2 separate regions of the Homo sapiens genome follow, and region 2 is linked to region 1. Evidence: fine-mapped QTL for protein levels in blood plasma. A gene starts in region 1. The other region holds a variant in brackets. All regions are shown on one strand. Distances are from middle to middle. Region 1 holds the start of PGLYRP4 (peptidoglycan recognition protein 4). Region 2 overlaps PGLYRP3 (peptidoglycan recognition protein 3).

What was found. PIP is the chance, under the fine-mapping model, that this variant and not a neighbour inherited with it causes the effect. The UK Biobank Pharma Proteomics Project read protein levels with antibody pairs (Olink). The fine-mapping took linkage between variants from a reference panel, not from the people measured, so its PIPs are less certain.
Region 2: its variant is fine-mapped to the plasma level of the PGLYRP4 protein (UK Biobank, PIP 0.97).

The regions. Positions count from the first base shown.
Region 1 is chr1:153,348,099-153,363,930 of GRCh38, forward strand. It overlaps PGLYRP4 (peptidoglycan recognition protein 4), which reads right to left and starts at 743. Exons shown (of 9, transcript NM_020393.4): 1 at 430-743. It overlaps S100A9 (S100 calcium binding protein A9), which reads left to right and starts at 9,756. Exons shown (of 3, transcript NM_002965.4): 1 at 9,756-9,783; 2 at 10,171-10,335; 3 at 12,546-12,925. The coding sequence starts at 10,186. The coding sequence ends at 12,740. RefSeq lists silencers at 4,578-4,627, 5,653-5,702.
Region 2 is chr1:153,292,447-153,308,278 of GRCh38, forward strand. It overlaps PGLYRP3 (peptidoglycan recognition protein 3), which reads right to left. Exons shown (of 8, transcript NM_052891.3): 3 at 14,620-14,821; 4 at 12,501-12,619; 5 at 11,411-11,563; 6 at 9,963-10,161; 7 at 6,667-6,785; 8 at 4,670-5,688. The coding sequence ends at 5,510. Among named protein-coding and RNA genes, the nearest start is that of PGLYRP3, 13 kb to the right of the region's middle. The variant C/T (reference allele first, on the strand shown) is at 7,984.

The DNA of each region.
Region 1 (15,832 bases):
ACCTGCTTCAGTCTTCTCAGGGCCCCCAGCATACAGCAGGTGCTCAGCATCCCTGTCCTATTATTACCCGAGGAACTCAATTTCATCACGTGCCCACGGCGTGCAAGGCTGTGTACACACTTGCACATGCAGTCTTATTTAATTAGTCCTCACACTAATCCTGTCATGTAAGACTGTTAACCCCCATTTTTACAGACAAAGGAAGTAAGATCCAAGAATGGTACAACCGAGAAATCCAGACTCATATGGATGGGTCTTATGCAGAGAATCCCTTCCCAGCTGGGAATATGCCAGATGAGGGAGATATAGGAGTAGGAGGGGTTCCTAGTTCTAGGGCAGAGGAAATCCAATCCTTAACACTCTTTCTGGTGGATTCCAGTCCCTTTGCTGGAAGAGGGCTTCTGAAGAAGAAACACATACTCAACTCACAGATATCTGTGGGTCCTGTGCTGTCCCAGCCCAGCAGGTCAGGGTGCAGTCAGCTTGCCCCTGATTGGCCAGCAGCTCCTTCCCTTCCAGACTTGGCCTCCAGGCCCTGCCCTTCTTCACCAACTGGCGCCTTCTCCTCCAGCCTTCACTCTCCCTAGCCCTAGAGGGCACTCCCTCCCTGGGAATGGAGCACTCGGGCTCTAGCTTCCCAGAGAGAAGAGAGCCCAGGATCCCTAACAAAAGATGGGGAGAAGGGAAGACAGAGGGCAAGGCTCTGAGCCAGCTCCTTTCACAGCACCTGGAGAAATGCAAGTGGGACCAGACTCAGGCTGAGAGCACCTGGGGACCCGCCCTGTGAATAAGCCCAGGTAGCTCCTCCCTGGGAAAGGGCAAGATTGCCCAACACTCCCGAGAGCTCGTCCTCAGCCCCAACCTGGGAAAGCCTGCAGGGCCTGAGGGTTGTGTCTGCAACATCTAGAAACTTCCTGCCTGTGAAGTTCTGCTCCAGGAGCCTGAAGACTGTGGATTGAAGTCACTCACCAACACCACCTTTTACCAGGGTCATGAGCAGGGTCAGGATGGACAGAGAGAAACTGGGAGGTACAATCTCAGGAAACAGCTCACGATGCCTAATTCTGCCCCAATAGCTTACATGTCTGCCCATCATCCTCCCGCCTGCCACTCCCCACCGTCGGCATCAAGCTGCCACCTACCACAGAAAGCCTCCCACAAACCAAGAATCTCCAGCTCCTCGCCATGTTCCAGTTGTCACCTAATCTCATTCCACATTCTGCAACCTGGACTTACAGCCCTTGAGTCTTCACAGAGGAAACTCTGCATGACACTTTCCAAGAACGCAGTAGGATGCAGTCTCCACGGGGACCTGCAGAGCCTCTCATGTCCCGGAGGGTGGGGCAGCCTCCCTAGACACTTAGGAAGTGCCCTGAATCCAGAACAGTTGCTCTCAGTGAGCTGCAGTCCCACTCTCAGACTGGGCTCCCCAGGAGCGCTCTCTGGATGGGGCCCATTGAGCATGCGCCAGGTCTACCTGGCATTCATCCCAGTCATGCACCCAGACCCAGGCTGGAGCTGTGTGATGAGCAGGGGCTGCTGAGCTCTGTCCTGGGGTGAGGGTGAATGTGGGGCAGAGCCAGAGACAGAGATGAAGGAGACCAAGAACTGCAGCCTGGGACCAGCACTGTAGGGACCCTGGTAGTTTCCCCAGCCTGGCAACATGCTGTTTCTCCATGCCTTTTGCTGGCCGCCCATCCTAAATAAGTAGAACAGTTCTCAAAATGAGAAGGTTTCTGGGCTTGCATCCGGGGCACCAAGGACTTGAGGAGACTCGGTTCCCCTTTTTGGAGCGGCTTGGGGAGGGGAAGCCCAAGAAGAGATTGGGTGGTGGCTGCCAAAGGGGACCAACAGATTCTCTGCCCCATCCAGAGACCAACAGATTCTTGAGGACTAACAGACTGAGGGCTGTCCGGGACGAGGGCATCGGGAGGGAGGAAGAGAGCAGTGTGGGTTGTCCCTCTCTGATTCTGTGAACTCAGAATCCCGAGAGGACCTCCTAAGTCCTAAATTATCTGGCCCCCAGCCCCATCTCACTCCACGCTGCCAGAGCAGGCTCCCAGTGCTCTCTGCCCCACCTCCCACCATCTCAAGACCCTTCCCAAGTGCCCAGCCTCGCTCCCCACCTGCGCCCAGAGGCTCCACTTCAGCCTGGCATCTTTGGAAAGGGCTCCGTGACTAGTTGGGACTGGTAGAGGCTCAGAGTCTCTCTTCTCCATTCTAGCACCTGAATGAATTGTAATTATAATCTCCTCAAGAGCAGTTCCCAAGTCTATCTCTTTACCTGCCTTTAATACTATCATTATTTATATTTACATTTTTTTGTCCTCTGTCTTAAGCCTCCCTCCAGCTGTGAATTTCACAGAAGTGGGAATTTACTTTATTCTGTAGTCTCAGGGTTTAGCTTAGTGTCTGGCATAATGCTGACACATGTTAGAAACTCAATAAGCATTTGTCAGATAAAGAAGGAAGGAAGGGAGGGAGGGAGGGAGGGAGAGAGAGAGAGGGAGAGAGAGAGAAAGAAAGAAAGAAAGGAAAGAAAGAAAGAAAAAAGAAAGAAAGAAAGAGAGAAAGAAAGAAAGAAAGAAAGAAAGAAAAAAGAAAGAAAGAAAGAGAGAAAGAAAGAAAGACTTAAACAGGACACTCTTTTAAAAGGTGTCAAAAGAAGAAATGGAAAGGAAAAGCAAGCCAGCACACCGACCTGCCTCAAATAATGCATACCTTCAAGTACCTAAGGCAGTGGTTCTCAAAAAGTGGCCCAGGGGAAACTGGGGGACCCCAAGACCCCTTGGGGGGGTCCATGAGATCAAAACTAATTCCAGAACAATATTCTCTGAACTTCCCACCACAGGAAACTGCCCACAAACCAAGACTCCCGGCTCCTCACTTTCCTCACTGTGCTGATATTTGCACTGATGACACAAAAACAATGGTAGAAAAAACCGTTAGAGACATGAACCTATGTGTGGCGTCAGACTGCACTAGCAGTCATTGTATTCTTCACAATGTATTCTTTCAAGAAAAGGAGGCTCACTTAGGAATGTTTTTGATGAAGCAGTGAAAATTACTCATTTTATTAAATCTCAACCCTGATTCTCTCAAGGAAAAGCATTTGTGTGCTACAGTTGTGAGCTGAACCAGCCACTTTTCATGGACGCCGTGAACAAATAACATAGAACAAATGATAGCCAAACTATGGATACTCATATTTGGGTATGCGGCATACATTTTCTTGAAAATTAACAAAGTGAGCCTTTCACTTCCGGGAAAACAACTACAATTTGTTAGCATAATAAAATTGGAGCTTTCAGTCAAAAATTTGAATTTTGGAAAATTTGTGTCTGCCACCATGAGTTTGACAGCTTCCCAATATTTGAAGACTACTGACAGGATCAGTGGTGATATTAACAAATGTGGTGGGGCTTTTTTGCTTTTTTTGTTTTGTTTTGTTTTGTTTGTTTTTGAGACGGAATCTATCTCTGTCGCCCAGGCTGGAATTCAGTGGCATGATCTCTGCTCGCTGCAACCTCTGCCTCCCGGGTTCAAGTGATTCTCCTGCCTCAGTGTCCCAAGTAGCTGAGACTACAGGCATGTGCTACCACACATGGCTAATTTTTTGTATTTTTAGTAGAGATGGTGTTTCATAGTGTTAGCCAGGATGGTCTCGATCTCCTGACCTCATGATCTGCCCGCCTCAGCCTCCCAAAGTGCTGGGATTACAGGCGTGAGCCACCACGCCCGGCCAAATGTGGTTTATTTATATGTGTGTGTGATATATATAAATATGTATATATAGAGAGTAATAAATGATGTCAGCATTTAGAAGACGTACATAACTCAGTCAACCAATATTTTCCAAATGATCAATATATGAAGTCACAAAGTTTGGATAAAAGATCCATTAAATTTTAAGAGGGACCAATTGATTCTAATGTAACAGAGAACAAATAATTCATTGATATGGTTTCAGACTTTACGTTGCAACTAACCTTTGAGAAACCATCACTTGTTGGGTTTTGATGTAATATGAGAGAAGAATATCCACAATTATATATTTAAAGGCTATTAATGTATTCATCCCCTTTGCAACTACTTATCTGTGGGAGATTGGATTTTCTTCAAATCTTCAACCAAAGCAACATACAGCAATACCTTGTATGCAGAAGTAGATGTGATAAACCAGCTGTCTTCTTTGAAGCCATACAGTAAAAAGGTCTGCAAAAATGTGAAAAAAAAACACTCTTCTCACTAGCTTTTGACATATATATATAATTATTTTTAATTGTTTAAAAACGTGGTAATACGTAATGTGTTTATTAATGGTACTTTAAGTGAGTTAATAAATCATTTTAAATTTTTTAAACTTTTAATGTAGTAAATACTGATACATCTAATCCACAAAAGCTCTTTGGGATACTCAATAACTTCTATGAATACATATAAAAGGGTCCAGAGAGCAAAAAGATTAAAAACCTGGGGCCAAAGGAATCCCACAGGCTGTCCTGATGCAGATAGGCCACAAGGTGGCAGCATGCGCCCTCTGATAACTCCGGAGTCACCTTTCACTCACTAGGAGTCTCTGAGCAACCTCTTTTATCCATCACTCCCTTCCACTTCCTTCCTTACCTTCATGCTTCTGTGTGGCACGTCTTTTTTTTTTCTAACTAGCTTTATCCACCAACGCCTTCATAATTACAGGGCATAGCCATCTCCTAAGCATAAGTTCTGGCCAAACCAAGCCAGTCATTCATTTTATTCTGCAAACATTTGTCAGGTGTCACTCATATGCAAAGCTTATCATCCAGGGATGAGTACATTGAGAACACTGCTCTCAAGTAGTTAATAATATAATGAGGGAGACAGATCCAAACGCCAGTGATTATAATGCCTGCTGAGTGTGAAAACCCTTTATTCTTTACAAAGGGCTGTGGACTTCAAAGGGAGTCCTGAGAGCAGAGGATGCCAAAAGCCAGATGCTGAGATACTCGCCAAAAATTTCTGCAGAGATCTGGAACCTAGGGACATAGTGAGCGCAAAAGCCAGGTTCCCAAGAGATCGGGGAGGAGAAAGGGTTGGAGCAACAGAAGCCAGGCAACAAAAGGGAATGCCAGCTTTCTCAATTTTGAAGGTGGCATGTCTGAGAAATTAGGAGGATGATGAGCAGAGGCAGCCAAGGTGGAGACAGGGGGAGAGGTCCAGACTTGGGGAAGCTTAGGTTGAATGTCTAAGAAGCCAGATCATTGGAGGGTCCTCACTGTGGATGCTGGAGCAGCCCAGCATGGGGGCAGGGAGTGCGGCTGCTCTCAGCAGAGGGCCTCAGAGACCTCAGGATGGCCAGTCAAGGGAGGCCACAAGGATGCCAGGGGTGGTCAAAGCTTGATGTGGACTGAGCCCAAACGTGGTAGAACAATGGTCTGAAGCTACCCGTGGATAGCTTCTGTAAGTCATCCTAATGCACTAGAGTCTAGAATGAGCACTGGGGAAATGGGGGATGTTAGGGCGCTTGTGGTTAGGAGACCCGTACCCAGAGATCTCCAAGGAAGAGCACTTGGGACTCCCAGCAAGGAGGAAGACAGGGAGTGGAGGAATAGGCAGCAGGCTGTGCGCAGCCTGAGTGGGGCTGGGCCTCAGGCATCAGAGTCCCTGTGAGGAGAGGGACCTGACTTCACCTGCAGGTGGAGCAAGTAAGCCAGGAGACAGTGTCCAGGGGCCATGAGGCTAGTAGTAGTCATGAAGCCCACCAAGAGTCCATCAAAACTTGGAATCTGTGCTAGAAATGACCTAAGGGTCAGCTGTCCCAATCTCCTCATGTAATGGATAAGAAAATGGAGGCCCGAACATGGAAATCACTTCTAAAGACCACCAGCAAGTCTGAGAAAGCTAAGGACTAAAACCAGCTCAGTCCCTCAGTCCGGGTCCCACTGTGTGCCTGCTGTAACACCCCCATTACAACACAGGAGGGGTAAAGCTCCCTGAAAGACCACAGTGGGAGCTGCAGAGAAGGGAAAGACAGACCCGCAGTGGGTCCCAGGCATCTGGGAAAGAGCACAGTGATTTGATGGTAGCTGCAGGAACCTCTGCCTGCTTGTTTGTTTACTTGCTTGGTTGTTTGTTTGTTTGAAATGGAGTCTCACCCTGCCACCCAGGCCAGAGTGCAATGGCGCGATCTTGGCTCACTGCAACCTCTGCCTCCCAGGTTCAAGCGGTTCTCCTACCTCAGCCTCCTGAGTAGCTGGGATTACAGGTGCGCACCACCACACCCGGCTAATTTTTTGTATCTTTAGTAAAGATGGAGGTTTCACCATGTTGGCCATGCTAGTCTCGAACTCCTGACCTTGTGATCCACCCGCCTCGTGCTCCCAAAGTGCTGGGATTACAGGCGTGAGCCACCGTGCCCGGCCACTTATTTGTTTTTTAACCCAAAAAGCCACACCCTTTTCTCCCAGTGAAAACCTCGAGTCATTGTACAGAGCCAGGAAAATTGGCCCACCCACTTCATGCCCTAGCAGAAGGCTCCGACTTTCCCTGGAAAATCAGTACCCAGAGGGGAAGACCCCCATCCCACCATCCCTCAGTCCAACCTCTGGCCTCGGCTGGCAGTGAGGAGGCAGGTGGGTGTCGGCCACCTACTGATCATGCCAGGAATTGTCTGCTCCGGTCAGAACCAGAATGGCTCAGCCCTGGCCTCACCTGCGCCTGGGCTAGCCTGGAACCTGGGGGCCTGCAGTGGCCTTCTAAGATGGGGGCCCACTGTCAGCATCAGATCCCCCAAGTGCAGATTCCCGTCTGTTTTGAAACCCTGACCAGCTGCTCATTCCCACCCACTGCTGAGCCTTCTCTCCCCCAACTCCCTATTTTACTTTCATTCTGAATCAGCACTAAATGACCACAGTCAGTGGCTCTGCAGAAAGTCACAGAACAGAGGGTGACAGGCCAGTGTTTATGTCACATTCACTCATTTCATCATTGATTCATGCACTCCTGAATTTATTCAATCAACAAGCGTTCATCCAGTGCCTCTGAGCCAGCCCTTGCCTGGTGCTAAGACTTTGGAGGGTAGCAGGCAGCATCCCTGCCTAGAGGAGCCACAGTGGTGTGGAGGAATCAGAAAGTCCACCTGAAAGTTGAGAGCTCCATGACAAAGCAGAGATGCCTGCCGCACACCATCACTCAGGGTTTGAGTCACACACACCCTGCTTCATTGTCATGCTTTTTTTGTTTTTATTTTAAATTAATGGACAAATTGTATTAAACAGGAATTTTCATATAAAGCTTCAGATGTCCTGGGCCCTCAGGAGGTCCAAGAACATCTGGTCTACTTTCCCACGTGGCAGCCCTGGCCTGACACTGGCTGTCCCTTCAAGGTAGGAACGTTCTCATTCCCCACAGTTGCCACCACTGTCCAGTGTCCCCAACCCTGAGGCCCCATATCAGTGGCCACAAGTTGCCCTACTGCTGCCGTTGATGTTCTCATGCCCCACCAGCTTCACCTTGGGTCTGGTTCCCGCAAGGGTGAGTTGGAGATCCTTGGTCCTGAGTGAGAAGTGCTTTGTCAGAGGCAGCAGAGGGCGCCATGGGAGCACACAGGAAGGGCGCCTGGGGCTGTGCAGGGACTGCAGAACAGGCTGCACTGGCACACAGGGTTGGCTGCTGGCTGCTGGCTGCTGGCTGCTGGCTGGGTTTCCTCTATTAGCTTAAACAATGGAAGGTGGACTTGGATAGGAAATCTACCTCATGTATTCCTGAGCTGTGTCTGCACCGTTCATTCATTCGTAGGCGACTCATGTATTCAAGCACTCATTTATTTATTAGATGCTTGCTGTGTGCTTAGCACTGTGCCAAGCCCTGTCCTTAGCTACCAAGAGTTTAAAACGTAATTTGGAAGACAGGATATAAGATTATGTCTCCCCTTTGTATTGCGACTCACTCATCAAGTTCTCCCAGCATCTAGCATTCATATCTGGCACTCAGTAGGTGCTCAACAAATATTTGTTGCATAAATGAATGAAAAGATTATTAGTAATAATACCTTTTATTTACTGAGCTCTTCCCAACTTTCCATGTATTGTCGCAATCCTCAAGGTAAGTCCTGATATTATCCTATTTTATTGATAAGAAAAGTAAGGCACAGAGAAGTTAAGTAAACTGCCTAAGGTCACACAGACAGTCTGAAGTCTTAACCACTACTCCAGGTGCATCTCAGCAGTGTGAGGCAGGCCATGCTTAGGGCCAATGCTTAGCACACACAGAGATTGCCTCAGGCTTTCAGAGGACAAAGCAGTCAGGAGGGGCTGGGGCAATAAAGGAAGGCTTCATGGAGACAGAACAAAATAACCAGTGCAGGTAGAAGAAGAGAACCATCTTTCCTGATAGAGAGAGGGGGCAGCAAGCAAGAGGGAGTCCCAGGGTGGATCATCCATACTGGCTTCCAGGGGTGACGGGAAAGGATGCCAGCAAGGACTTCAGCAAGGATCAATCAGCAAATCCGAGGGTGTCTCTCTTGCCAAGCCCCGGGCTGTGTGCATAGGAGAAGGAGAACATGAATGAGAACCTACCTTTGAGGATCTACAGCCAATTGTTGGACAGAGGCAAAATATGTATATAATTTTACTCCAGGAAAGCAAGTGTTGAGAGCCAGAAGTGGTATGAGAATCATAGTCAGGAAGACAGAAACTGTTTCCAAATGGGAAGCACAGAGCAGTCTCCTTGGAAGAGAGTGCATTAGAACTGAGCCGTGGGGGCGGGCAGGATATCACTGTGGAGTAGGGGAAGGGCACTCCTGGGGTGGCAAGGTGGGAGGTGGGCCCTGTGTTCCCACAGTGGGCAGGGAGGTAGTGAAAGGGAAGCTGGCCGGACAGGCAGGGCCATTCCAAGAGGGCTTTGTGCGCAGGGCTAAGCCAAGCTTTCTCCATAGGCAATGGGGAGCAACTGGAGGTTCGTAGCAGGAGAAGGACACATCTTGCCCACCAGGAGGCTAAGTAAAAACAGTTGTCTCCCAAGTTATAAGTTCCTGGAACCCTTGCTGGGAGCAGGATTTAGAAAAATGATGCTGAGAGATGCTAGAAACATATTCGCCCTGAGGCTCTCTCACTCAGACTGCAAGAGGAAGGTATCATCAGAATTGCCCTTAACCAGGAACCAGAATAGCTGGGTCCCCTTCCTGCCAAGTCAGCAACCAGCTATGTGACCTTGCTCAGGTCCATCTCCGGGTGTCAGTTTCTTCATCTACAATGCAAGAGGGTTGCCCACCTCTGAGAACCCTTCTAACCCCAAATCTCACCCTATGAATCTAAGAACACCAACCCCTCGCCATCCTAAGTATCACAGAGCCAGGCAAGCATGGGTGAGAGCTCAGACCATCCTTGTTGGACTAAAAGGAAGGGGCAGACTGCCCATGGGGGGCAGCCGAGAGGGTCAGGCCCCCATAGGTCCTCAGCCTGCTTCAACCTCAAAGGGGATGGGGGGCTGAGTGGTGCCAGAGGAGCAGCAGGCTCGCTCGGGGAGAGTAGGGCCTTAGGATAGAAGGGAAATGAACTAAACAACCAGCTTCCTCCCAAACCAGTTTCAGGCCAGGGCTGGGAATTTCACAAAAAAGCAGAAGGCGCTCTGTGAACATTTCCTGCCCCGCCCCAGCCCCCTTCCTGGCAGCATTACCACACTGCTCACCTGTGAAGCAATCTTCCGGAGACAGGGCCAAAGGGCCAAGTGCCCCAGTCAGGAGCTGCCTATAAATGCCGAGCCTGCACAGCTCTGGCAAACACTCTGTGTGGCTCCTCGGCTTTGGTAAGTGAGCTGCCAGCTTCCCCAGGCAGAAGCCTGCCTGCCGATTCCTTCTTTCCTTCCCTGACCCAACTTCCTTCCAAATCCTCCTCCTAGAAGCCCTCCTTGGTTGGCCCTGCCTACTTTAAAGCTTCTTTCACATTTTCTTAGGTCATGTTCCCCTGGGGCCTCCTGCCCTCAAATGCTTTGCTTTTTGGCACTCTGTAGATATTCTAAAAAATCATTTTGTACATGTGTGTGACAGGCCATCTCCCAGTTAAGTTGCAGCCTGTGCTTTCTTTTTATTTTGCACTTCCCCCACTATTTCTGTGAGTGCTTAGTAGGAAGTGTCAAAGAAGCTTGACAGCATTTTCTTCTAAGTGTCCCAACTCTTGGTTTTCCATTACACAGACAGAGTGCAAGACGATGACTTGCAAAATGTCGCAGCTGGAACGCAACATAGAGACCATCATCAACACCTTCCACCAATACTCTGTGAAGCTGGGGCACCCAGACACCCTGAACCAGGGGGAATTCAAAGAGCTGGTGCGAAAAGATCTGCAAAATTTTCTCAAGGTAGGGCTGGACTCTGGCAGGTCTGACCCAGCCTCACCGCAGTTTGGGTTGACAAGGGAGGATGGGAGTATGGGCTACAGCAATCAAGGGGAAGATTTGAGCTCCTGGAGCCCAGCCCCAAGACGCAGCGAGTGTCCTGTTATACAGGGCAGGTGCTCACAGTTACACAGGACGACAGGGTCAAGAAATTGCTCAATTGAACACCTGCTATTTGTCGGGCCCTGTTCTGGGCAGAGGGATGTAGTGGTAAATGGGGAGCCCACTATTCCAGTGGAGGGAGACACACAGTAAAGTTGTTGGCCAATAAAGAGCACAGATAAAGCCAAATGCCAATAAGTGCCTGGAAGAAAATGAGATAGAGTGCGCTGTGGGCAATGGGGCTGGGTGGGGTGGAGGTGACCAGTTAGGGTACATGAGAAGGGCCTCTTTGAGGAGGTAACATTTGAGCTGAGCCCCGAATGTTGGGGAGGGAAGCCCCTGAGGATGACACTTGGCACAAAGCTGAGGAGACCCTAAGCCTCAGGCGGGAACTTGGGGTGGAAGACTTGGGGGCTTTTCTAATCCTAAGGGTCTGCGGTGGAAAATGAATGCATAAAGAGCACATGGAGAGCACCTGCACAGCACTCAGGGAACTGGGAGGTTTTTCCCCCGCTCCAAAAATGATTAGGCAGTTCTAAGAAAAAGGCTGAGCACTTCCAACAGCCTTTTTGTTTTCTTTTCAAATTTGGGGAAAGTCGGGAAACAGAGGCCTGCATTAAGAAGGGTGGAACACATGGGTCTCAGTCTCAGTTCCAGTCCCGGAGCCAGACATCCTGGGGTAGGTCCCCAGCCCTCCCAGTGCCCCTCCCTCCGCCTTGGTAAGGTGGAGAATTGCAGCCTTCAGAGTTAGGGGCCCTGACAGCTCTCCATAGGTGGAGGCCTCAGGCAGGCAGGATGCTGGGTGGGGTAGGCAAGAAAGGGCCCAGCAGAGAGGCCGCATGGCAAAACTATCCTCCATGTGACCCCCTATGCCCGCTTCACCCCCCACCTGACATCCCCCACCAGAAGCAAAGCGATGCTGTGGGAAAGGAAGCAGAGCCTCATGGATGGGCTGCACAGGAGAGTGCTCGCATTGGCTGGGTACCCCACAGGTTCTGGGAGGGGACTTAGCGAGGTGACTCAGCCAGAGGGTGGCAGAGCTGGAACCAACCAGTGCTCTCTTGGACCCCGCCTGGGTCTGGGTCTTCCACCTCCCCTGATGTCTCTCCTTTTTTTTTTTTTTTTTTTTTTTTTGAGACAGAGTTTCGCTCTTATTGCCCAGGCTGGAGTGCAACGGCACAATCTCGGCTCACCACAACCTCCACCTCCTGGGTTCAAGCGATTCTCCTGCTTCAGCCTCCAGAATAGCTGGGATTACAGGCATGCACCACCATGCCTGGCTAATTTTGTTATTTTTTGTAGAGACAAGGTTTCTCCATGTTGGTCAGGCTGGTCTCGAACTCTTGACCTTAGGTGATCTGCCTGCCTCGGCCTCCCAAAGTGCTGGGATTACAAGCATGAGCCACCCTGTCCGACCATCTCCCCTTTTATACTTTATCACACCCTTGAGGTCAGCGGAGCACATACTCTGCTCTCTGACCCTCCATCTCCCCTGCCCACACCTAGTTTTTCTAGGTGTTTCCCCGTTGTATTGGTTGAAATAAGTTTCACTAATTGGTAACCTCCAGAGGGAAGGGAAGGGAGGGCAGGGGAAGGAGTGAAGTGCAGAGGGGTAGCAGAGTGGAACTGGCCTCTAAGTCAGATCTGAATTTGCATGCCCTCAATAGTCAAGCTGTGAAAACTAATGACCCTCTCTAGGACTGGTTTCAAGTCTTCCTCCAGGAAGATACCATTCCTAGCTGTTAAAGTTGTTATAAGGACCAAATGAGGTGACATTTCCAGGCTTACTCATGCCATGACCAGGGCAAGACCCTGGAACTCAGCTTCCTCTTCTATAAATAGAGAATCAGCACCCAAGTCACAGGGTCATGGAGGGAATAAACTGGAGAGCGTTTGGTATGTGCTCAGTGTCTGCTCCATTGTGCGCACTCAGCCTATGGTCATTTTTAATTTTTAAATCCAGCCCCAGGGTGAGGCTTCCCTTGTACATTTGCCAGCTGGTCATTTACTGTGCTCCCAGTCCCCACCTCTGGCCACACCCAGCTCTCACAGCCTTCTCTCCCCACCCGCAGAAGGAGAATAAGAATGAAAAGGTCATAGAACACATCATGGAGGACCTGGACACAAATGCAGACAAGCAGCTGAGCTTCGAGGAGTTCATCATGCTGATGGCGAGGCTAACCTGGGCCTCCCACGAGAAGATGCACGAGGGTGACGAGGGCCCTGGCCACCACCATAAGCCAGGCCTCGGGGAGGGCACCCCCTAAGACCACAGTGGCCAAGATCACAGTGGCCACGGCCACGGCCACAGTCATGGTGGCCACGGCCACAGCCACTAATCAGGAGGCCAGGCCACCCTGCCTCTACCCAACCAGGGCCCCGGGGCCTGTTATGTCAAACTGTCTTGGCTGTGGGGCTAGGGGCTGGGGCCAAATAAAGTCTCTTCCTCCAAGTCAGTGCTCTGTGTGCTTCTTCCACCTCTTCTCCAACCCTGCCTTCCCAGGGCTCTGGGCATTAGACAGCCCTGTCCTTATCTGTGACTCAGCCCCCTCATTCAGTATTAACAAAATGAGAAGCAGCAAAACATGGGTCTGTGCTGGGCCCCTTGGGCTCACCTCCCTGACCATGTCCTCACCTCTGACTTCAGGCCCCACTGTTCAGATCCCAGGCTCCCTGCCCCATCTCAGACACCCTGTCCAGCCTGTCCAGCCTGACAAATGGCCCTTGTCACTGTACACTGTAGAAAGCAAAAAGGCATATCTCTACCCCTTGATATGCCTGCTACCTCACCAACCAGCCCCAAGCCTGTCTTCACCCATCACTGTCTACACAGCCCTCTCTCTCTCCTAACAGAATTCTATTCCTCTGAAAGTCTTCCAGAAATGGACCTAGATAGTGCCATGTCTGGGGAGGAATACTGGCACCCAGGCAGTGGAAACAAGGACAGATCCGGTGTGTTTACTCTCACACTTTTTCTGGATCCAAGAGAGCAATTGGATCTCTCTTAACAGACCTGCCACCCTAATCAACGGGAGTGCTCACACAAGTGGGAGTCTGAGAGCTTAGCCCTATGCCCACCCTGGTCTCAACAGAATGGCAGAGTGAAGAAATGAGCTCCAGTCCGGGCTCTGCAGCTAAAAGACTCCGTGACTACCAGGAGGAGTCTGTGCTCTGGGTCCAGAGAGCCTGGGGGTCTGAAGATTCTGATTTTAAGCTTTGAGGGCCAGCTGTCCTTTCTGGTGGGTAGCTGAGAGCTGGGCCCAGCACAAGTATCTGCTTCTCTCTGCAAAGCCTACTACCAGGCCTGGCCCTAGCTGCCTCAGGGCTACTGCTGCAGCTCCCCCTTCAAGCTGCCCCAGATCCAAGTGCTCAGTTCAGGGACTCCTCTGCCATCTTCCTGCCCTTTGGCTATAAAGTCCCTTTCCTAGGTTATAACCAGTGGGGTTTGGCCTTCCAAAAACCAGAGTCCAGATCAAGGTCCTCTGACCCCTGTCCTTTCAGCAGAAAGAAGACTCACAGAATTAGGATCTGGGGAAGCTGGGAAGACTAGCAGTCACCTACTCTCCCTTTTCATAAGTGAAGAAACCGAGGTGTAATATGGAGAAGAGACTAGTCCAAAGTCACACAAATGACAGAGTTGCTCAAAATAATGCAGTACGAAAAGTAGCTTGAATCATATCTGCCCCACTGGCTGCACCTCCCCAGCCCCTTCCCCAGTGCAGAGCAGGAAGATATAGAGCTGCCAGTGTTGGATTTCAGCCCTCCCCTCACAGCCTGGCTATGGTTGTGCCCCCAACCTGCCTGTTGCAGACTCCTGCTTTAAGGGCCTGGGGGCTCCGCTCTGGGTGCAGGGTTTTAAGGGCTCCCACTCGAGGGTATGAGGATGTTTCCAGGAACTGTCTCAGGCTGAGAGCTTAGGCAGCAGAGTCTAGAAGCCCTCCTCAGTCCCTTCTGTGCCTGACTTGGAGACCTGACAGCTGGGGACACTCATTTTCTGACAGCCCTTCTGCTCCCATGCTCACATCCAGGGAGGAGTCACTGTCTTCACTCCCTTCTGAACACAGCTTGGTAATGAGGAGAGAGAAGCATCCTGGGGATTGGAGGGCCTTAGACCAGATGCTTCCAGTAGGGTGGTAAGTGCTCCCCCTAGGCCCTCTGCCCACCACTACTTATCACAATGTGCCTAAATATGTTTATGACTCTGCCTACCCCTCCAGACTGATAACTCCAAGAGAGCAAAGTCCATCTGTTTTTTTTTTCTGATTTATTCTCAGCACCTAGAGTAGTGGCTGCTACATAGAAGGTTCTCAGCAAATATTGCCTGTATAATGGCCTAGGTTTCTCACGTGTTCTATGCTCTCTTCTCAAGGGATGATGTGGAGAAAAAAAAGCAAGAGGAGATCAAAACCTGCAAATGGAAGGCTTCTGCATTAGCATTACAGAATCTCAAACCTGAAGGTAAGGAGCAGCAAGTTGATGGAATCGGAGGGCCCCTCCACCCCCTGTTCAATCAGACCAATTTGATTTGAAGGAAGAGATTTGTCTTGAAAAAAGTGTGAAAACTATGGACTTAATCCAATCTGCCCCACCCACACTCTAGAGTGATTCTTGCCAACATCCCTGCCAAGTGACTGAACCAACCCTGCCTGAATTCCTCCAGGAAAGGAGAGTTTCCCCCTTTGGGAGTGACACTTGGAATGTCCCTCATTATACTGAGCTGAAATCCATCTCCTCATGCCCACCCAGCATTAGTCCTACTTTTCCTCCCCTTTGAGGACACAGAACAAATCTAACCCCTTATCATCCATCCTCCCATCCACATGTTTATTCCTCCACTTCTTCAAAACGCCTTCCCTAAATTACATCCAGGCTTTCTCCAGCCTCTTCACCTTTGCACCAAAAATGCTGTGCTCCATCCTGGTGTCTCTTGTAAGTCCCTTAGGATCCATCAAGCCTTGGAACAAGTGTTACTGCTTCCTCACCATCCACCCTTCTCAAGAAGATAGGGACTTCCTCCTCCAGGCCCACAGAACTCTGACAATTCCACCATTGCACTTCAAATACTGAATGGCAAATACTCATTTGCCAAGACTATGAACCCCTGAAAGCAGGGACTATAGCTGATTTTCCCCCACATTCAAGATCCCAGCATGGACCATCCACTTGTTCATCCACAAAGTGAAGATAGGATGGTTCTAGAGCAGAAATGGGTGCTTTGCTCGAATGTGGGTGTGAGGTAGGAGTGGCTCTCAGGAACTGGGGTTGGGGGTGCCAGCTGTCTGGAGACCTGGGGCTGGCAGAGAGCAGAGCAGCTGAGTGGCAGGATGACCCAGAGACCTCCTCAGGTAACAAGGATTCT
Region 2 (15,832 bases), 56 kb before region 1:
TTCTGACCCTCTCCTCCCACTCCCAGCACCCCCGCAGCCCTGGGGCAGGGTGTGGAGATGATTTTCAGGGCGCAGCGAGGAGATAATTTGTGGGTGTCTACTGTACTGAGACTCAGACCCACTTCCCCCACTAATCCTTTCACACTGCCATATTCTAGATGTTGGTGAAAGAGAAGAGAAAGAATAAAGACAGGCACGAACAGGAGCAGAAGGGCAGACAGACAGAAAATGAGGAGCATGAAGAAACAGGCAGGGAGGCAGCGTGAGAGAAAAGAAGAGGCCGAGAGGGAGGGGAGGGAGGCACAGACACACACAAGACACAATGTTGGAAAGAAAAAAGCCCACAACGTGAAGAGGAAGAGCCCAGGAAGCATGGGGAAGGGTGGCAGGAAGCTCAGGAAGAAAGGTTTTCCTAAGTCAGCCAGTCGGAAGAAAGCCACCGCCAGGGGAGCAGCTGCAGTTGCGTTTCCCGCGCACCACACCCCACCACACCCACCACCCACAGCCCCAGAGGCTGCATCCACCACAGTGAGGGGTCACAGGAGCCTCCACAGGGGCGGGGTTGGAGGGCATTGGTGCTGGAGAAGATAGGATGTCTCCCCCAGATCTCACCAGCAGAGGGGAAGCCGCCAGAGGGTAAGGGGGAAGGATGGCCTGGCATTAAGAGGGAGTTCCCTGTGAGAAATCTGCGGAGGCTCAACAGTGGAGACACTGGGATTTTCCGCTCTGCGGTAAGCGTCTGAGACCAGCTGAGGGAGACACTGCCTCTGCCCAACCCATCCTGGCTTTCCTCCTACAGACGCTTAGGTGGCCCCAGCAGTGTGCCAGGCCCTGTACTGGCCCAGGAGACGGAGCGAGGGGAGCAGGTGCAGCCCTCGGGGAGTCCAAGCCGGCAGGGAGAAGGCACGCGGGCAGCAAAGAGGCACTACGAGGCCGGGGCCGAGTCCATGGGCGCTTGCGGTGGGAGACGCCATTTCTAGTTTGGAGAAGCAGGTTCTGGAAGAGCAAGCCTTTGAAAAGCAGCTAAAAAAAAAAAAGTGGGATTGGAGAGGTCAAGAGAGGGGAAGTTGTGCAGGCAAAGGCAGGAACATGTGAAAGCCCAGCGTGTGAGACTGCAAGTGACCCGCACGGGCTTGTTCTGTGGGAAAGAGATTATGGAGGCCCTAACCGACATACTCGTGTGTTGTTAGTTGACTCAGTGGGGAAGGAGAGGCCATACCATGATTTTAGCAGAGGGGTGATAGGAATCATGCCGTGCCTCAACCTCAGAACCTGGGTGCTCCTTCCTCTACTTAACTCATGGGGCGACTTGAACAGGTCATCTACCTCCTTCCGGTTCAGTGTTCCGTGAAACAGGAGGCTTTAACCAGATTGATATTCACTATGCTGGAACCAAAGAAAACTTTGGAGTCTTTTTTTCCCAGCTTATAATCATGGACAACCACTGAGTCGATGAGCTCTGGGCCCTTCCCACCCTGACAATGCCGGGGGCCATGAAGGGGCTGTGCCCCCTCCTTCACCGTGGGCTGCTTCAAACCTGCCCCACCCACTTGCAGGCCTGCCTGGCTCCTCCCTGCTCATCACCAGGTCTGGGCACAATCTGCACCAATTTTCCCCAGGCAGCTGCGGTTGATGCCCACGAAGGCACATCCTTCCTGCCACAGTCAAACAGGAGTAACAGACAGCAACAATCACACGCCTCACCCGATGCCAGTGGAATGGTTCTTCAATGCTGAGCACGAGTTCTCAGACCCTTACACCTGATCATTCATTTAACCCTGGCGATAATCCTCTGAGGGGGGTGTTAGTATTGCCCCTCACTCTAAATGATTAAGGGGAAGCTGGGAAGAATTTCTCTATAAAAGAACACAGGAGAAGCAAACTGCCTGGAATAAGCTGCCTTGAATTTGCCTTGGAAGAGCGTTTGCTGGCTGGGCACAGTGGCTCACGCTGTAACCCCAGCACTTTGGGAGGCCGAGGCAGGTGGATCACAAGGTCAAGAGATCAAGACCATCCTGGCCAACATAGTGAAACCTCGTCTCTACTAGAAATACAAAAATTAGCCAGGCGTGGTGGCAGGCGCCTATAGTCCCAGCTACTCAGGAGGCTGAGACAGGAGAATTGCTTGAACCCAGGAGGTGGAGGTTGCAGTGAGCCGAGATAGTGCCACTGCACTACAGCCTGGGCAACAGAGCAAGACTGTGTCTCAAGAAAACAGGAAGGAAGGAAGGAAGGAAGGGGCATTTGCCGGTTGAGTGCTCTGATTTTACTTAGTATGTTTAAGATCAATAAAAGTAGATAATTTGGGAAAAACAATAATCCAGACCATGCAGTATTTTTTCTTGAGACAGAGTCTTGCTCTGCCGCCCAGGCTGGAGTGCAGTGGCGCTATCTCGGTTCACTGCAACCTCCACCTCCCGGGTTCAAGCAATTCTCCTGTCTCAGCCCCACGAGTAGCTGGGACTACAAGCACCTGCCACCACACCTGGCTAATTTTTGTTTTTTTAGTAGAGACGGAGTTTCACCTTGTTGGTCAGGCTGGTCTTGAATTCCTAACTTCAGGTGATCCACCCGCCTTGGCTTCCCACAGTGCTGGCATTGCAGGCATGAGCCACCGCGCCCAGCCAATATTGTTGTTTTGAGGCCTTCATGAGTGCTGATGGAGTTGGGGAGTCTACAGTCTCTTCTAAAGTTCATAAGGGATGGAGGTTGGGGAGGGAGGTCAATGAGTCCCTAAGGCCTGGGAATGGTGTTTAAATCAAAAAGAGGAGACCCTCTATTTTGGAGGATTATAAGGAAGGCCAAGAATTATAAGGATACCTTTTTCATGAAACCATTTCTCAGCATCTCAGTCTACCCCTCTGGCTACTTCCTGCATGAGGGGATGTTAAACTCACCCCTGCTGGGGAAGGTTCCTCTGGGAAGCCTGTGCCCACACCCCACCCCTCCACCAGAAGGGGGCTAGCAGGAGTGTCACTTCTTACTGCAGGAGGAAGACCTTTCACTACAGGAGTTCTACTGGAGCCACCTTCCTCTGATTGTATAAATGGAGCAAGAGTTCTGAGTCTCCCTGGGCTTATGTGACCCTCTAGACAAACCACTCTTCCCCTGCTTACATAACCAGGATGCCATAGGGCAAATGACAAATGGACAGAATCAATCTAATGAGATCGGAGGGACCGTTTTGAAAGCACAGAGCTGTATACAGATTAGGCCGTTAAAGCCTGCTTTGTAAGAGACGTGAAACACTGGAAGCAAAGACACAGCATCAGTACTCAAAACATGTACAGGGGGAAGAAAGCCCATGTTTCTGGCACCCCTTCTTCCTCCTTCCCTCTTTAAACCAAAAATAAAGCTCTAATCCCCACAACTGACTGACGAACCTCCATCTTGGCCAAGGGTATTCCAAAGGAAACCTGAAAATCTAGTTCAGGCCATGTTGGGAAGTGGGGTCAGACATGGCTCATTATACCCTTCTCCCTTAGGGATTCAGGCACAACTGACCAGCATTAACCTTAAAACAGAGATCTTAAGACTGACCAAACAGACTGTTGCTATAAGATATCAACATGACAGTTAGCAGATCCTGAAAGAAATTGAAGTATTTTACCCCAAACTATATTTATTTGACATATTTTGAAATGGCCCTGTAAAGCTGTCTCTTGTGGGGAAAATTCCCATTCTGTAGAGAATTCCCTTCCCTCTCCAGGTCTTTTCCCTGATCCAGGAGAGAATTGACTAAGAGTCTGGCTCCTTTTAGGTCTGATAAGAGCTCCGCAGCCTGCTACCTGGAGGTTTCATGTGCATGATAAACCGTGGTCTCCACAATCCCCATCTTAACCCAGACATTCCTTTCTATTGGTTGGAGGTCTTTAGATAATAACTCTTTCAACCAATTGCCAATCAGAAAATCTTTGAATTCACTTATGACTTGGACGCCCCCCCCGCCACCCACCCACCTCCTGCTTGGAGTTGTCCCACCTTTCCAGCGAAACCAATATACATCTTACATGTATCGATTGATGTCTCATGTCTCCCTAAAATATATAAAACCAAACTGTAGCCTGACCACGTTGGGTACATGTTCTCAGGATCTGCTGGGGCTGTGCCACAGGCCGTGGTCACTAATATTTGGCTTAGAATAAATCTCTTCAAATATTTTACACAGTTTGACTCTTTGTCAACACCTTCCCTTGTTTCCAGATCAAAACCCGTGAAAACAAGAGCCAGCTCACGTGCTTCCGGTAAACAGCAGTACGTCATCATGCCCCCATCTGAAGAAAAGGAGCTTCCCTCTGGGCAAGAGGAGCCCAGGTAGGGAGGGCTACAGAGCACCAGGGCTCTGGGCTCTCTCTCAGCCCAACACCCAGTGGGACCCAGCCAGGCAAGGGCAAGTGGCAGGCACTGGGCAGCTTGTGTGGACACAGCCCTGGCCTGACCCAGAGAAGCACATGCTCCCTGCCTTCAGGGTGCTCTTGGGGGACATGGACGCGAGACCCTAACAATACAGCCACCATTACAGACAGACGACCAGAGCCAGCTCTGAGCCTTGGACTGGGAGGGAACAGGAACAGAGAGAATGCTGCTGGTGGGATGGGGACACTATCCAGGAAGGCTGCCTCAGAGGGGAAGTTCCGAAGCAAACTGGCAAGGTGAACAGGGACCTGGGTCCACTCATTCATTTATTCATCCATTTCTTTAACAAACATCTGTAGAACCTATTAAACTCCAAACACTGCTGAGGAACTGAGGATAGAGATGAATAAAATAGAATTCCTCCCTTGGAGAAACTTACAACCCAGAGGAGAGGACAGACATATCTATAAATCATATCTATAAATAATTACAGCCCTTAAGTAAGGGCTGCATCCAAATATGTACCAGTCCATGTGTGAGCAGAGAGGGGGGGTGGGCACACTGACCTAGGTCATGGGTGAGGGATGAAGGGTGGGGGCTTCCAGGCAGAAAACAGGGAAGGCTCACCAGGCAGAGGCGGGGAGAGGGGGAGAGAGAGAGAGAGAGAGAGAGAGTGAGAAAGCAAGAAAGAAGGTGAAAGGAAGGAAGGAAGGAAGGAAGGAAGGAAGGAAGGAAGGAAGGAAGGAAGGAAAGAAAGAAAAAGAAAGAAAGAAAGAAAGAAGAAAGAAAGAAAGAAAGAAAGAGAAAGGAAGCAAAGAAAGAAAGAAGAGGAGACAGGGGTTGGGGGGAGAGAGAGAGAAATGCCACAAGGACCAGCCCATTGTCTCGCCTGACTGAGGAGGTAAGTGCCCAGGGGAGAGGTAGGTAAAAGAGAGGGGAAGTCTAAACTCAGACCAAGAGGGCTGTGAATGCCCAGCTGTGAGGTTTGGGGGCTCCTGGAGGATGTTGGCAGGAAAGGACATGACCATTCAAACCTGAGAAAGGATGGGCTGGCAGGGGAGGGGGACACAAGGTGCTGAGCCACCTTGGCTGGTGAGGGTTGGAGAGACCCAGCAGGGGAGGGAGGGCAGTCTCAAAGGGAGTGGGGCCTCCTTCAGTGCTTGAAATGAGGCCAGGTGCTGATGATGTTATACAAAGCCTGCCCAGGGGACAGGATGTTGACCACGTCACTGTGGCCCATCAGCAGGTAGTTTGGAGTCAGGTACCCCTCAACCACGGCACACTGGATCAGGTCCTGGGCCGCCTCCAGCGCTGCAGCATTTGGAGGCTTTTCTGCAAAACACATTTTCCCCATCAGTCATTAGGGGCTCAAAGTTTCTTGATTAGGGAAGGGACAAGCACCTAGATTCCAGTTTCTTTCTTCCTCCACCACGCCCCATTCCGCCATCACCATAGCCAACACATTTACGTAAATTGTGGCAATCAGGCACAAAAAGAAAACAAGGTCATTGCTTTCTCTGATTCCTCCGTGCCAAAGTTTCTTCCAGAAGGTTAAAAACTGCTGTGGAGGGGGCCAGGTGCAGTAGCTCACGCCTGTAATCCCAGCACTTTGGGAGGCCAAGCAGGCGGATCACGAGATTAAGAGATCGAGATCACCCTGGCTAACATGGTGAAACCCCATCTCTACTAAAAATACAAAAAAATTAGCCGGGCGCCTGTAGTCCCAGCTACTCGAGAGGCTGAGGCAGGAGAATGGCGTGAACCCGGGAAGTGGAGCTTGCAGTGAGCCGACATCACGCCGCTGCACTCCAGACTGGGAGACAGAGCGAGACTCCATCTCAAAAATAAATAAATAAATATAAAAAACTGTTCTGGAGGAGAACTGCAGCACAACACACCACTTCTGAGCAGGTATAAAGCAGATACAGCACCACTGGGCCGCCCACTGGTTTTCCATAACAGGCAGTGGTGCTCCCCAAATTGTTGCCATGGCTAACAAGAAAGGGGACACATTTGCCAACTGAGCGATAAAAGCACTGAAGTTTGCAAAAGACGTTTCCCCCCTTGCTCCATGTTTGCCTTGGATATAAAGCAAGGTGGAGCTGGGCATGGGGATGGGTGGATTTGGGGGTAAATGCTCTGTCTGAAAGGGGATCCTGGTGACATCCTGTATTAAGAGTCCACTTTAAAGCTAAAATGTTCCATTCACACTGCCAGGCACTACAGGGCTGCCTTTCCCGCCATGCTTCCCAGACATGCTGCATGGTCCTTCAACCCCCAGCACCCCTCTACCCCATGCTCACCCCTTACCTACAAAGTAGCCGATGAAGGCAATTCCTAGGGCAATATCGTTGAATCCATAAGTGTGAGAGCCTTGGATGTGCCATCCAACCCCTTCATACACGCCACCATCCTGGCCCACCAGGAAGCTTAGGTCAGGAAAAGAAAATGAAGACAGTCACTCTGGGAAACAGAATTTAAATACTTCATTCACTCCTTCAACCACTCATTCATTCTTTCATCCATTCATCCAATATTGACTGGAGATCTCTTATGTGCCAATGTGGACAAGGACAGAAAACAAAACAAAACAAAAAAATACCACAGTCCACTTCAACCTGGCCTTTGTTCCCATCACACCACTAAATCTGACCCCTCCAAGGTGAGCAGTGGCTTCCTGGCACTAAGTACAATGGACACTTACTTTACTTCTAGACTACACTGACCCTGTTGACCACTCTCTTAAAATGTTCCCTTCCCCGGGCTTCCACAACCACAACCCTCCTTGTTCTCCTCCTCCTGCTGCTCCCTCAGGCCCCTCTCCCACCCCACCTTACCTTCCTCAAACATGGTGCTCCTCCGCACTCTAGTCTAGGCCATTCTCTCACTCAACGTATTCACCCTGGACAATCATTGCCACAGCTTCAAGTACTACCTGTAAAAACAGTCCAAGCAAACCCACCTTCTTCTAAAATTTATCCAGCTAGAAAATTGGACAACACCCTGAATGCCTTCTACCCCCTCACTCAGCCCACCTGGTCACCAATCATGGCTTGTCAATTGTATCTCCTACACAGCTTCTAAATTCCTCCACTTCTTTCTAGACCAACTGCCACGATCCCACTGCAAGTCACTGGATCACTGCAATAGCTTCCTGCCCAGAGTTTTGCCTCCTTCCAACCCATTCTTAAAGTAGCACCCAGAGTGATTTTTCTAAAATACAAATCCTATCATAGAGCATGACCTCCCAAATAGTCTGCAGCTGCCTTTCAAATTGAGTCAGTCTCTCTGAGTCTGCTATGAGGCCCTCCGTGATGTGGCCCCTCCCAGGCTTTCCCACCCTTACTACTCACCACTCCTCTCTTTCAAATCTATTTGTAATGCTCTGTCTGAACCCCGGGCCCTGGCAAATACTGTTCCTCCTCACCCAGACACTCTTCCTCCTTCTTTGCCTGAATAAACCCCACTGCTTATCCATGTCCCAATGAGGATACTCCTCCCTCTAGAAGCCATTCTCAGACCCCAATCACCCCCCACAAAGCCTTGATTAGAGACTCATCATATACATTATCCTGTTCTGCATCCATCACAGTGCTCAAACACTTTGACTTGTAGTTACTTGTTAGC[C/T]CTCCTTCTCTCATATCTATCAGTGAAAGTTGTCAGAATCAAAATGGAGTCACTTGTGTCAAACTCTAACAAAAATAAATAAAGCCAGGAGGTTGAAAAGGGTGGACCCTCATGCACACAAGCCTACAATAAGAACTAGCACAAAGACTCTCTGAAGGACTCTTACGCACACAAGCCTGTAACAAGAACTTTTGCCAAAAACTTTCAAAACTGCAGCTTGTTACTAGTCACAAGGACATCTGGCTGATGAAGAACACTTGCCCAGCACACTGTCTCCACTAATGAACTGGTGTCACCTCCCGCGATAAGTTCCAATGTTCTCCAGTGTTCCCTTTATTTCAAAACAAACTTTTGCCTTTTGCCTTTAAAAGCTTCCCCTAGCCTGAACCTCTTTGGATATGCCTGTGGTTCCTGTAGCATGCATATCCCAGATTTGCAAATTCCCTTTACACTCTCAAATAAAATACTTATCTTTATTCTCTTGCTTTTGTTTTTGTCTTTTTCAGACAGGGTCTCACTCTGTTGCTCAGGCTGAAGGGCAGTGGCACAACCATGACTCACTGCAGCCTCAAACTACTAGGCTCAAGCGATCCTCCGTTTCAGCCTTCCAAGTAGTTGGGACTGACTACAGGTATACATGTCACCACACCCAGCTAATTATTTTATTTTTTTGAAGAGATGGGGTCTCCCTATGTTGCCCAGGCTGATCTCAAACTCCTGACCTCAAGCAATCCTTCCGCCTCGGCCTCCTAAAATGCTGAGATTATAGGCATGAGCCACCGTGCCTGGCCAAATTAATCATCTTTGGAGAATCTCTCTCTGTTTGTTGTTAGATTGATATATCTCGTCTAGCACCAGGCATATAGTAGCTATCCAATAACTATTGATTAAAAAACTAGAAAATAATGTGTGAGTGGGTGCTTTGTCCTGATTACAGTCCATATCAGGGTTACAGGTGACATATCATGAGGCTGGAGCAGAAGGATATTGCAACAGGTTTTGAAAAGTCAAGGAACGGGGATGGAGTCTCTAAAGACTGAGTGAAAGAGGAAAACAAACATTCCCTCACCTTCTGGCATTTTCCATGTGGAATTTCCAGATTTTTAGTCAATTTCTTGTTACCTGTGCTAAATAACCATAGAAAGCCTATGGAAAATCCTGCAAAGTGAAGCAAGAGTTCCCTCCTGTTTGCAAAGGCTGCTTTTAAAACAGGAGTTAAAAGGAGAGATAGTAGGCCCAGAACAACACATGTGCAAAAGCACATCTACCTGAGACTTTGTAAGATTTGTTGTGATTAAGTCACAGATGAATAATTGAAATACATTATACTCTAGCCCTAAATCCTTCCTTTGAAAATTCCAAGACATCTTCCAAGCAGCTTCTTCTACTCCATTAGTTTAATGTGTTTCTTTATTACAGACCTGGCATTAAAGGTACCAAAAGAAAATGTTTTGATCTTGCTCCCTGTCTTCAAACAGATAAAGCATTGTCCCTATTGTAGAGATGAGACAAAAGAGGCCCAGAGAGGTTAAAAGTTCCTACATCTATAAAATGAGGTAAGTAACACCAGAGGAATAGCAGGATTCTAACATCGGAGAGAGCAAGTTTGGAGCTGGGCAGACTGAGATAGGAGTGAGCAAGGCCTTTGTCTCTGACAGGTTAGAAGGGATTGCATTAAAAAGGTACAACCCTTCATGGCCTTCCCTGAGGGTATCACAGTCTTGCTTTATCACTAGGCTTCTAATGCCTTCTTTTCAGAATCTTCCCAACCACTTGTGGAGATACGTCCAAGCGAGGTAACTGACCATTAGCTATGCTCTGAATGATCCTCAGCCCAATCTTGCAAAAATAAAATATGATGCCTTATGGAAACCACCCAGCCCAAAGGAGAGGCTCAGGAAACATCAGTTCCCTCCCACAGCCTTCCTTCCTACAATCCTGAAGAAAAAGAGGGTTCTTTTGGCATTGATCCCACTTACTGATATCCAATGTCACAAAAGTTCCGTGTGTCCATGTGAAAGGACTGTATGTTTCGGACGACAGTCTGGCAGTCTGTGGATACAGTGCAGCTTGTGCCAGCGGTGTGGATGATGATGACATATTTGGCTGGGAGGTTCATTTTAGGGCAGTGTGTCTCTCTGGCTTCCCAAGCAGATCGTTTGATGATGTTGGGGCAAACTGTGGTAAAATGAAAAGCCAAGGAAGTAGGAATTTTTTTTGCCTCTCTGTGAGCAATCACTCAACTCCAGGCTGGATTATTCCTCAGCCTCTCCCAGGCCTCCAGCACCCACGGGCACATCCTAATGTAATATCAGCTTTGGGATTCTGGGGAAGTCCAGTTGGGAGGTTTCTGATTCAGATGGCTGGAGCCAAGGGGCTGAGGCAAAAATCTACAGGCCTGATACCAATAGAAATCAGCGTATAAGCAGAAGGGAAAGGGCTGTGGGTTATACAGAGGCATGGTCATTGTCTTCAAAAGACCATGCATTGCAAATATATATGCAGGTATGTGCGCTTATGTAACAGGGCTACTACGCGGAAGTCAGTGGACTCTCCGAACTGATCACACATATTTGGAAACAACTTGAAATCTAGAGAGAACTGTACAAATATTAAGAAATTATCATTATTGAAGATAGTGCCTGTCCAAAAGCAAGAAACATTTTATTTGAGATTTACAGTTTTAAAAAGCTAATTCTAAAAATATCATTGATCCCAAGAAAAGGTCCACTAGCAGGAGTGCTTATTAATTTGACTGGTTTTAGGTTGCTGCTTATTCACTTCAAAATAGTGCATTATTTTTATTACTCAGCTTTTTGTTATATGCACTCTGATGTCAGCATCATCTGTGAGCACAAGCTTTTCTCCGAGCTGTGGCTGTGCTGTGGCCATGGCTGGTTTTTGCATTTAGAAAGGTATGTAAGCTTATGTATGTCCTTCGTGTCCCCACATAATAGACACAACTATGTATACATGTTAATCCCACTCCATTCCCACTCTATTTTTCTCCATAGCTTTTATGCCGTCTAACATCATATACATTTCTTTGTTATTTTGTTCATTTTCTGTCTCTTCTCACTGAAGTGCAAGCTTCCTGAAGGTGAAGAGTTTCATCTGTTTTGTTCACAGCTGTATGCTCAGTACTTAGAACAGTGCCTGCTATGCAGTAAATATTTGTTGACTGACTGAAAATCTGTGTACATATGTATTTGTTTTAAGAAGAAGTCTATGGCTATCTCATTCTGATGGGATGGAGAGGAGGCCAGGAAGATGCCCTCTCAGAATTTTCCAGATCTCAAAGTAGGCATGAGATGTTCTTAGTCCCAGAATCCCATGGGGTCTAACAGGAAAAAGCACTCCCAAACATGACTCCAAACATGGCTAGGTGGTGACGAGGAGGAGGGTGAGGTGACATGGAGGGTCTTACCCTTCCTGGGCATCACTGGATGTTGAGGGTCCAGGCAGGTCTCTTCTTTCAGAAGAAGTGGCTGAATATACCTGGGCGACAGGTGACCCTTCTGGATGGCATAGGAGATCAGACCCTCTGCAGCTGATAAGGCAGCAGGGCTGGGACTGCTGCCTTAAAGAGGAGGACAGGGAGCACAAAAATGTCAGTAAGAAACTCCACCTAGACCAGACACCTGCAGAAAGGATGATATGACCACTTGAGCCTGAATAACTGGATTGGAAGAGAGGAAACTGGTCCAGTTGCCAGAACAGAGTGCCTAAGAGGCGAGAAGCTACCTAGATCTCTTAGCAGCCAAGGTTGAAAACTTCTTCCAAGAGCCAAGCTAAGACTTTATCCACTCCATCTCTAGGCAGAAGAGCTGGAAGGCAGTGAAGGATACATGCAAAGGGAGGCCCACCTGACCAAGTCAGGTGTGCACTAGCACAGGAGAAAAGGCAACCAGAATTTACTCATAGCTCCCCTGATCAGGTGTGCAGTAGGCTTTTTATATCTGTTAACTCATAACTCTCACAGAAAACCTCTGAGAGAAATGCTGTTACCTAGCCCCAGCTGTCAAATGAGGATGCTGGCAGGTGCTGGTTCCATATGTATTATTTCTCAGCTCCATCCCTGTTCTGTGCTTTTCTCTATTTTTCTAGGGGCTAGAAGCCTGCAAATTATACCTCCAGATTTCCTTGCCTGCTGCCTTCTGGTCACTTTCTACCAGTGGAACTGGAATAAGAGATGAGCCATGCTTCTCTGCCTCTGGCAGTCACAGCATCTATGTCAGACAACCTCAGACTTTAGAAGTGACAGCAATAACCGTGAGCTCAAGCAACGCCCATGCAAGCTTCAGCAATATCACAGGAGTACAGACCAGTAAAGAGAGGCAGAGGACAAAAAGTATGCATGTCACAGGATCCAAAGGAGAAAAGAATTTCAAGAGAAGGGTGATCATCAGAGAAGGTAAGTATGATGTAGGGTAAAAAGATGAGTGTTGACCCTTGGGAGTGGAGGAAGAGAGTGTACACAACTCTCCAGCACAGGGTCCGCAGGGAGTGACCCTTACCTATCTTATTGCCAAAGAAGGCGATGCCCAGGGAAATGTTGTTGTAGCCCTGGGTGTGCAAGCCTTGGATGTTCCAGCCAACACCTTCATACACCCTGCCATCATCCCCAACCAGGAAGCTGACAAGAAGGAAATAATGATTTTACTGCAAATCTCCATAAATGAAAACCTCTCACTGATCCTCAAAAGGAAAAGGGGTTCTGGAGGCTCATAAGTAAGTACTATGTTCCAATAACAAAACAATAGGAGGTGCAGAATAACCAGTTTTAGACCTCCAAGAGACATGGGAATATATTTTAATTTTTGTTGGGATTTAGCTTGCATGTGTTTTCCAGAACCTCACTTCAAAAATACTCATTTGGTTCAAAGTGGAATTTGACTGCATGACACTCAAGGACCTGAGGACATTAGTTCAATGCTTTTCAAGAGCTTAAAAATTACTACATCATGTTTTTAAATTATAGGACCAAACACTTGAACATTCTCTAAAATAATTATGCCAGATTCAATAGTTCCTTTTGTATTGATGTTTTTCTTCAGATTCTCTTTAGGAATTTCCTTAAGCTCTTCTTTATCATAGAAATTTGTTTAGAATGTTCCTTTTTCACATTTACTTTTTAAATCAATTTTTTATTCTACTTCTTTTATTCCTGCCTCTTTATAATTTCTCTCCTCCACTTTCCAATCAGTCTTCAGAATTGATGTTTTCACAACTTTGCCGTATTCATCTTTTAATAGAACATGAGTTTCCGCAGCAAACTGAACACAGAAAGAACACCTCCCTTAGGTCAAGGAAAGACACTGAACTGAGTCAGGCCGACTTTCCACCCTACACCGATGTCGACATGAGGAATGGGTGTGGAGCCTGGTGTGTCCACCCCTTCCCTGGCTTTGCTGCCAGTACTTTCACAGGTTCCTTGGTCACTCCTGCAGCAGCCTGTGGTTAGTACGGTGTGAACAGTCCCTTACAGCTACTGTCAGCTGCATTGCAAAAACTGGAGATTGTCAAGTTGTCACTGTAGAAACCTGACTTAGAGATGCAGAGGCTGAAATAACTTAGGAATACAGTGACCAAACCAGAAAACACAGCAGCGACAACAGCAGGATGGTGGAGGTGCTGGTGGCAGGGGCAGCAGGTGAGTCGTGGTTGACATGACATGCCCCATGGGCAGACAGGGAAGACCCAGCCATCCCAGGGGTGCTGGGGGCCAAAACCAGGGCCTGCAGCTGCTCTTATTTATTTGTGTTTAAAAATAAATAAATAAATAAATAAGACTTAGATTTTCCTTTCCAAAATGGATAATTCAGAAATTATTTATGTTTGTCTTTAGAGTTCCATGCGGGACAGCCCCATTCCCACTCTCTCTTTCCCTCTCCTTCTACATGTGTCTCCTCATTCTTGAGGCTAAGGGAGAAAAGGTTCTGGGCTTCCACTGATGATCCCCAGAGCAGAAACTCAATGCACAGTGCACAGCTCCTTCATGCCCTCCCTTGTTTCTTGCGGGTCTCTCCTCCCCGCCATTCCCAAAGCCCACTCTCCCCGGTGGGGTCCCCGGACTTGCTGTCAGAGTGGTCTTTCAGGGTAACAAGTGGGACACTGCTTCCCAGGTGCGAGTCCCTGTGAGGTGGGGAGGAGCAAGGGCTACACTGGCAGGTGCTCTCACACAGCTCTGGGTACGTGCTTCCTCTCTCTGAGCAGAGCTTTTAATTCCCCCAAACCATGGCTTTCCCGCCTGTGAAATAAGGGTAGGAATATGGGTAGGAACCCATTTCTCAGAGTAGCTGGGAGGGCCAAATCGGGTGATATTTGTGAAGACCTCTGTAAACTGTAACGTTTCGTGAGTTCCAAGGACTCAGTTAAAACTGCAGTTGTTACGTAACCTTCCTTGCTTTTTCACAGGAGCACCAGAATCGAAAGCCACTTAAATAAGTGGCTTAGAGTCATCCCTCTTACAATCCCCGAAGGATTCGGATTTTGTTTGATTCCCCTTTTACCATTTCTATTCATTACAAAAGCAATGTAAATGAAGCGCAGAAAATAAGAGCCACAGAGAAGGGGAAGTGGGAAGCACCCCCGTGACTTTGGATGTGGGCCTCAGGGACTTGGCTAGCCTCTTACTTGTACGCCACGTCGCACCAGCCTATGGTGTAGACGGAATGGGACTGCAACCCCCGCAGCATCTGGCTGCAAACGCTCTGCTGCTGGCACTGCATCCCTGGGAGCTGGTCTGTGATGATGTAGGCCACAGGCAGGGTCAGCAGGGCCCTGCAGGCGAGCGGTCTTGCCCCCCACTCCTTGCGGGAGACGATGGTGGGAGTATCTGTAGGGAAGACCACAGAATGGCACATAGCAGGCCCTGCCCATCTTCCCCCAACAGGTCGACCATGTGCCCTGACCTCTCATGCTCAGGCCCGACCTGCCCCATGCATGGGAGACACCCTGGGGGAGCCCTTCACCACCAAAGCCCCCTCCTTCTCTCCACTGTGGCTGAACCACTGCCCAGACACACGCTGCACTCAGCCTGGGAAGTCGTGCCGCCTTGTTCCCAGACAATCTCTCCTTGTCTTTCCCTGAAGGGCAAATCCCATCCCCTACTGCCCCCTGGCCTACATGCTCCCCTCCTTCAGAAAGCACCCCAGCCAACCCCGCCGCCCACCCTGGGGCTCTGAGCTGCCTCCTTAGCCCAGAAGCCTGAGGATGCATTTTCCTCACTGCCATTTGCCCTGGTCTCAACTGTGTCTCTTGTCTTCCCCTCCCCTAAGAACCATGACTCTCTGAAGGAAGCTCTATCAGTCTCCTCAACTAGGGACTCCAGAGCCCACAGGAGGCTCCATAAACACGGGGTCTGCACCTCTTTCTTCCGGGCGAACACTCCCTAGCGGCAGGGCTGTGAGATCCCACCTGCCGCGTCAGGCTACCTGAGGGCTCCCTTTCTCCATTCTCATCATGGGAGCCCCAGGAGCGCTCTGAGGGACAATGGAGACACTGTCATGCTGGAGCTGGGAGTGGAGGACATGTCTTTTCTCTCTGGGTTTTTTCTCCTTCTCTCTCTCTTTTTTTTTTTTGAAATGGAGTCTCGCGCTGTCACCCAGGCTGCAGTGCAGTGGCGCGATCTCGGCTCACTGCAGCCTCCACCTCCCGGATTCAAGCAATTCTCTTGCTTCAGCCTCCCGAGTAACTGGAATTACAGGTGCATGCCACTATGCCAAACTAATTTTTTGTATTTTTAGTAGAGACAGGGTTTCACCGTGTTAGCCAGAATGGTCTCGATCTCGTGACCTCGTGATCCACCCTCCTCGGCCTCCCAAAGTGCTGGGATTATAGGCGTGAG